Linked DNA regions of Homo sapiens. The protein of the gene in region 1 interacts with the protein of each later gene in a pairwise test. Each region holds a gene or a part of one and is shown on either strand. Other genes may lie near its edges.

Region 1 (3,745 bases):
GGTCTCGAACTCCCAACCTCAGATGATCCGCCCGCCTCAGCCTCCCAAAGTGCTGGGATTACAAGCATGAGCCACCGTGTCTGGCTAATTTTTGTAGTTTTAGTAGAGACAGGGTTTCACCATGTTGGCCAGGCTGGTCTCGAACTCCTGACCTCAGGTGATCCGCCCACCTCAGCCTCCCAAAGTGTTGGGATTACAGGTGTGAGCCACTGCACGTGGCCTGTATGTAACTGATTTTTTCTCCATTATTTCTGGGTTCCTATTTCTTCCTTTTAATCAGTATCTCTCTGTTATCTGCCCCCCTTGGGCAACTGTCCCCTACGCGCTCTCTGAATCCTTGTCACCCCCCTGCCCCACCCCCTGACCCTGGGTGTGACGACTGCAGTGTGGCTCTGACCAGCCCCCTGTCTCCTTCCTGTCTCCTGCTTGCCTGCTGTGTCTGCTGATCTCGGAGTCCCCTCTTCCTCTAGCTCTTGTCCCCTGACCTGGGAGTTCAGCTTCCCCCTCCTGCCTTGCATTTGGGAGCCCTGTCTTCTTTATGGCTGGACACCCCATCTACTGCTCATTCAAAGGACATTTCCTGGGCTGGGCGTGGTACCTGTAATTCCAGCACTTTGGGAGGCTGAGGCGGGTGGATCACTTGAGCTCAGGAGTTTGAGACCAGCCTGGCTAACCTAGTGAATCCCTGTCTCTACTAAAAAGTACAAAAATTAGCCGGGCGTGGTGGCAGTCGCCTGTAATCCCAGCTACTTGGGAGGCTGAGGTAGGAGAGTTGCTTGAACGCAGGAGGCTGAAGTTGCAGTGAGCCAAGATCGTGCCAATGCACTCCAGCCTGAGTGACAAGAGGGAGACACCGTCTCCAAAAAAAAAAAACAAAGGACATTTCCTTTCTCCTCAGACCCTGGTTTCTGAGACCATCCGCCGATTTGGCCGCCTGGATTGTGTTGTCAACAACGCTGGCCACCGTGAGTTGTGAGACCCCAGGGCCATTCTCCACCTCCTGCCCCCCAACTCTGTTTCCTGCACGTCAGTTTCCCCACTCCCTGCCCCTGATTCCCTCATCCTGCCTCATACCTCTTTCTAGCCACTTGGACAGGAGAGTAAAGCAATGGAAGCCCCCCAGGCCTGTGCTGAAACTGTGGCCCTGTTCCATCCCTCCTGTGTGTCCCCAGGGCTGTGCCCTCACTTGGCCATGTCTCTCTTCTTTTCTTTTCTTTTTTCTTCTCTTCTCTTCTTTCTTTTCTTTTTTTTTCAGATGGAGTCGCACTCTGTCGTCCAGGCTGGAGTGCAGTGGTGTGATCTCAGCTCACTGCAACCTCTGCCTCTTGGGTTCAAGCGATTCTCCTGCCTCAGCCTCCCAAGTAGCTGGGATTACAGGCGCCCACCAGCACGCCAGGCTAATTTTTATATTTTTAGTAGAGATGGGGTTCATCATGTTAGCCAGGCTGGTCTTGAACTCCTGACCTCAGATGATCTGCCCACCTCGGCCTCCCCAAATGCTGGGATTACAGGCATGAGCCACTGCACCCGGCTTTTTTTTTTTTTTTTTTTCTGAGATGGGGTCTCACTCTGTCGCCCAGGCTGGAGTGCAGTGGCTCGATCTAGGCTCACTGCAACCTGCACCTCCCAGGTTCAAGCAATTCTCCTGCCTCAGCCTCCTGAGTAGCTGGGAATATAGGCACCCGCCACCACACCCAGCTAATTTTTGTATTTTTCGTAGAGACAGGGTTTTGCCCTGTCAGCCAGGTTGGTCTTGAACTCCTGACCTCATGATCCGCCTGCCTCAGCCTCCCAAAGTGCTGGGATTACAGGCGTGGGCAACTGTGTCCAGCCCCCGTCACTTTTCCTCTCTCTCTCACCCCCCACTTTAGACCCACCCCCACAGAGGCCTGAGGAGACCTCTGCCCAGGGATTCCGCCAGCTGCTGGAGCTGAACCTACTGGGGACGTACACCTTGACCAAGGTGAGGGCTGGCGACCCTGCCGCCAGGCCCGAGCAGCCTCCTGATAGGTGGATTGTGTGATGCATTTTGTCTAAGAGCAAAATGTTTTCCGTTCTTTTTATTTGTTTGTTTGTTGGAGACAGGGTCTCTCTCTGTCGCCCAGGCTGGAGGACAGTGGTGTGATCTCAGCTCACTGCAACCTCCACCTCCTGGGTTCAAGCGATTCTCGTGCCTCAGCCTCCTGAGTAACTGGGATTACAGGTGCGGGCCACAAAACCAGCTAAATTTCATAATTTTTGGTAGCTATGCTTCTGACTGCAAGTGATCTGCCTGCCTTGGCCTTCCAAAGTGCTGGGATTACAGACTTGAGTCACCACGCCTGGCCATCTATTTTCTGTTATTTAGTTTAATCTCCTTATTCCAAAAGGAAGATAAATGACTGCGAATCTCTACATCCAGCAAATCTACCTTTGTAGCTACATAGCCCAGTCTTAGGAACCTTCTAGAACCTTCCAGACTGGTGGTGGTAGGAGGGGATGTTAAGAACATATTGGGGCCAGACACAGTGGCTCACACCTTTAATCCCAGTGCTTTGGGAGGTCCTTGTGGGAGGTTCACTTGAGGTCAGGAGTTCAAGACAGCTGGGGCAATACAGCGAAACCCCCCATCTCTACAAAAAGTTTAAAAAATTAGGCGTAGTGGTGCCCTTGTAGTCCCAGCTACTCAGGTGGCTGAGGTGGGAGGATCGTTTGAGCCCAGGAAGTCAAGGCTGCCATGAGCTATGTACACACCACTGCATACAGCCTGGGCAACATTGCAAGATGCTGTCTCAAAAATAAATAAATAAATAAATAAATAAATAAATAGGCCAGGTCCAGTAGCTCACAGCTGTAATCCCAGCACTTTGGGAGGCCGAGGCAAGAGGATCCCTTAAGCCCAGGAATTCGAGACTAGCCTGGGCAACATAGTGAAACCCTCGTCTCTACAAAAAATACGGAAATTACCTGAGCATGGTGGTGCGCCTCAGGTACTTGGGAGGCTGAGGCGGGAGGATTGCTTTGTTGTAACCGAGCGAGTTATAGAGAAACGCCACACTCTGAGACAAGATCAGGAGTCCTTTATTAGCCGGCAGCCCAGAGACGGCTAGCGCTCAAAATTCTCTCGGCCCCGAAGAAGGGGCTAGATTTTCTTTTATACTTTGGTTTAGAAAGGGGAGGGGGGAGTCTAGTTAAAACAATCTTACAGAAGTAAAGCAGGCAAAAAAAGTTAGAAAGATAAATGGTTACAGGAAAGCAGACAGTTCCAGGTGCAGGGGCTTTAAACACATCCCAAGGTGATAGACGCTGGACGTTGGGCGCTATCAACCAGACAGAAACGCGGGGGCTTAGGGTACTATTAATCGGGCGACTGCCTGGGAACTGCGGATATAACTTGCCACAGTATCTTATCAGTAATTGCATTCTTTGATGTGCTGGGAGTCAGCTTGCACAAGTTAAGTCCTTGAAGAAAGGGGGGTTGGGTTAAGGGGCTGCAAGTGAAGGAGCCAGGATGGAGTCTGTCTGGCTCGCTCACCTAAGGGAGAGTCAATTCAGGTTAAAACAAGGTTAGGGTATCACAGCTTGAGCCCAGGAGGCGGAGGTTGCAGTGAGCTGAGATCGTGCAACTGCACTCCAGCCTAGGTGACAGAGTGAGACCTTGTCTCAAAAAAAAAATAATTCATTAATTAATTTTTAAAAAGAGCATGGAGTCCAGGCATGGTGGCTTACGCCTGTAATCCCAGCACTTTGGGAGGCCGAGGCAGGC
Region 2 (3,745 bases), on another chromosome or scaffold:
ACAGAGCAAATATGTTGACAAGTTGCTCTGCAGTCCTGGGGTCCTGTGCCTGCAGTTATTTGGAAGGTGAGAGGTCCATGATAGGGCCTGGCCCAGCGGCGTTCAGCAAGTGCCTCAAAATTCATGGGCCTTCTAGTGATATCCCACAGCCTAACACAGGGCCCTGCCTCCAGGGAGCCTGTGGTCAGTATCAGCAGGTGAGAGGAGCCTAAAGAGATGCATCCTGCGTTGCTGAAGTTCCTGAGTCCAGTTCTAAGGCAGCTCTACAGGCACATTTCGCCAGGCATGGTGGCTCATGCCTGCAACCACAGCACTTTGGAAGGCCAAGGTGGGAGGATCACTGAGGCCAGGAGTTCAAGACCAGCCTGGGCAATACAGCAAGACCCTCGTTTCTACAAAGAATTAAAAATTAAAAATTTAGCCAGGCGTGGTGGTGCACACCTGCAGTCCCAGCTACTCAGGAGTCTGAGGCAGGAGGATGACTCGAATCCAAGAGATCAAGTCTGCAGTAGGAGCTGTGATCACGCCACTGCACCTCCAATCTGAGCAACACAGTGAAACCCTGACTCTAGGGGATAACAAAAGTCACATTTCATGAGGGCAGGCCTTGCGTGTGGTAGCAAGAGCTATGGTGGAGAGGGACCACCCCTGAGGGTTGGTGGGCTGCCTGGGGACGGTGCCCAGTGCTGGACAATCCACACAGCTCCTCTCCAATTGTTGTGGCTTCCCAACACCCCTGTAAAAGAAGAATTGCTATGATCCTGCTCTACAAATAAGAAAATTGAGGCCCACAGCTCACCCAGGAGCACAGAGCAAGCCAGTCAGCAGTGGCTGGCCATCTGGCTGCAGGTCCTGAGCTTTGTCCACACCACCAAGCCACAGTCTCCCTAGCAGGGAGGCGCACAAAACTATCAGAGGCAGAGGAAAGGGGTGGCCTCTGCCAGGTGAGGAGCCAGACGGCCTGCTTCGCAGATCCCTTCCAGCTGGCTTTGCCTTCCAGTGCTGAGGTGGGGTGAAGGAGGAAAGGCCGAGCTGGGAGAGGAGCAGGCGCTCGCCACAACCACCCCCACCCTGCTCTCCACGCGCCAGGTCCTGCACGCTGGGTGGGAGGGTGACGACAAGGATGGAGGAGCAGGGCCCCACCCCCGCCCTCCCAGGGCGCACCATCTGCAGCAGAGAGGGCCTTGAGCTGCGTGGGAAATGCGGTAGGCAGAGGGACACTGATGAGGGTGGGCCGGCTGACGGCAGCCTTCTCTCAGCCCCGGACCCCTCCCGCCATCCCCAGCCCTGCCCCCTCCCTCCTTCCAGCGCCTGTCACTCTTCCTGCCCAAACCAAGCATTTAGCACTTAGCCTCGAACCCTCAGCTGACTCCTCATCTAGGACTCCGTCCATCTCTCCAACTATTGCAGAATCTCCTTCAAGGCAGGGGTTTATGTCCCCCACCCCACGGGCCATGTGACATTTATAACTCTTTGGTGGAATGAGAAGAAAGGTATTTGGGATATGATCAACTCCGGCAATGCCATTGTGTGTTTACGGCAACAGCGGGACAGTGGTTCCAGGGGGCGGCCCCGGGCCTCCGTGACGTCACCGGATTGTCGCGTCACCGTCGCCTACCCCGGCGGCGCAACGCGCCCTGCAGGAAAGATGACGTCACCGTCGGAGCTCCTGCAGACCAGTGCGCGCTCGGGGAGTTGGCGAGCGGGTGGCGGCTGGGAGACGTCCCGAGCGCACGGGACTGACAGGCGGCAGAAGCCGGGCGGGGTCCGCTGGGCTCCGGACCCGTGCCCCCCCAGTTCCAGGGCGGCCCCGGGCGGCCCCGCCCCCTCGGTGAATGCCGCGGGCCGGCCAATCCGGGCAGGCCGCGGCGCCGCGCAGCCTATCAGCGGCCAGAGCTCGCGTGCGCTTCCGCGTTCGCGTGCGCTTCCGCGTTCTCGTGAGCTCCCGGCCCGCTGCCGCAGGGACTGGGAGCGGGCTCCGCAGCGCACTCTAGCCCGCGGCTCGGCTCAGTCGGTCTGCGAGGATCCGGCCCGCCGCCCCCCGGGGGACCCGATGGCCTCGGAGGGCCTGGCGGGGGCGCTGGCTTCCGTGCTGGCTGGCCAGGGGTCCAGCGTGCACAGCTGCGACTCGGCGCCGGCCGGGGAGCCGCCGGCGCCCGTGCGGCTGCGGAAGAACGTGTGCTACGTGGTGCTGGCCGTGTTCCTCAGCGAGCAGGTGAGCGGCCGCCCCCGGGCCCGCCGGGCCTCGGGAGCGCGCAGCCAGCCCAGGTGGGGACAGAAGACCCAACGGCCACAGCCAGCGCTGCCGCGTGCGTGGCGCTTCCCAGTTTTGCAAAGCACTCCCACTCCCACTCGCATCTGTGTCCTGCGTTCGTCCCGATATGCAGAAGAGGAAACTGAGGCCCGGGGCCTGTTTGTCTCATCCGACTAGGCCTCATTCCTTCCCTTCCCCAGAGTCTAGCGGAGTGCCCAGGGCCCCTCAGATAGCAGTGGCTCAATCCCGGCTTACCTTCAGGCCTTTGGTGCTGATGCCTGTAGTGGGCGATGTAATGACAACTAGACGGGGCCAGGGCCATAGGGCGGGGTTGTACAGAGCGGAGGTGGGGGTCGTGTTTCAAGCCAGACCCCAGTGTGAGGACCCATCACAGTTTGTAAACCACGCCGTTGGAGGCGAGAGATACACAGTGGCAGGTACAGACGCAAATCAATCCAAGACAGACAGACACATGGTGACCCTCACTCTGGGGCCTCATCTCCAGCCCCTGAAGCGGCTTCCAGGAATCTCAGCCCTTCCTGAAATGGAAGTCTTCCTAAATCCAGAGAGAGACGAATTGCAGAGAGGAGAGGGCTGCAGCCCCCAGCGACACGAGGGCAGGTCTCCTGGAGCGCTAGCTGGGTTGAGAGTGTCCACCCAGAGGGGAGTCTTGGGCGACTGTGTTTGAGATGCCCCCTGGTCCCGGGGCGAGGGAAGGCTGTGGCAGGAAGTGAGGATCCTCTCTCCTCTCAGGATGAGGTGCTACTGATCCAGGAGGCCAAGAGGGAGTGCCGGGGGTCGTGGTACCTGCCTGCGGGGAGAATGGAGCCAGGGGAGACCATCGTGGAGGCGCTGCAGCGGGAGGTGAAGGAGGAGGCGGGGCTGCACTGTGAGCCCGAGACACTGCTGTCCGTGGAGGAGCGGGGCCCCTCCTGGGTCCGCTTCGTGTTCCTCGCTCGCCCCACAGGTATGGCCCACCTGGAGGCAGTGTGAACAGGGCCAGTTGACACCTTTCCCCCAGCTCCTCGGTGAGGTGAGCCCCTCTACAGCCAGTCCTGTTATGGCTGGCACAGCCTGGCATGGGCAGATTCCAGCCTTTGGGCTGGGGGCCTCTCTCCTGGGTCAGGGATGTCTGTTGACTCTGCCAGAGCTGCACTTCTCTCCACACAGACCCTCCCTGCCCCATCCCCCACATCTCCCCCAGGTGGAATTCTCAAGACTTCCAAGGAGGCCGATGCGGAGTCCCTGCAGGCTGCCTGGTACCCACGGACCTCCCTGCCCACTCCGCTGCGAGCCCATGACATCCTGCACCTGGTTGAACTAGCCGCCCAGTATCGCCAGCAAGCCAGGCACCCTCTCATTCTGCCCCAAGAGCTACCCTGTGATCTGGTCTGCCAGCGGCTCGTGGCTACCTTTACCAGCGCCCAGACAGTGTGGGTGTTAGTGGGCACAGTGGGGATGCCTCACTTGCCTGTCACTGCCTGTGGCCTC

What was found. The genes of interacting proteins can lie anywhere in the genome.
Region 2: the proteins of HSD17B14 (region 1) and NUDT18 interact in binary tests that used the Homo sapiens proteins (3 or more experiments, as listed by UniProt).

What each region holds. Positions count from the first base shown.
Region 1 is NC_000019.10:48,829,886-48,833,630, reverse strand, and holds part of HSD17B14 (L-fucose dehydrogenase), read left to right. Parts: intron 1-898; coding exon 899-965; intron 966-1,871; coding exon 1,872-1,963; intron 1,964-3,745. UniProt on the Homo sapiens protein: Catalyzes the NAD(+)-dependent oxidation of L-fucose, yielding L-fucono-1,5-lactone, which rapidly converts spontaneously to L-fucone-1,4-lactone. Can also act on D-arabinose and L-galactose, with lower catalytic efficiency. Does not use NADPH.
Region 2 is NC_000008.11:22,107,609-22,111,353, reverse strand, and holds the start of NUDT18 (8-oxo-dGDP phosphatase NUDT18), read left to right. Parts: upstream 1-2,053; coding exon 2,054-2,215; intron 2,216-3,007; coding exon 3,008-3,221; intron 3,222-3,458; coding exon 3,459-3,745. UniProt on the Homo sapiens protein: Mediates the hydrolysis of oxidized nucleoside diphosphate derivatives. Hydrolyzes 8-oxo-7,8-dihydroguanine (8-oxo-Gua)-containing deoxyribo- and ribonucleoside diphosphates to the monophosphates. Hydrolyzes 8-oxo-dGDP and 8-oxo-GDP with the same efficiencies.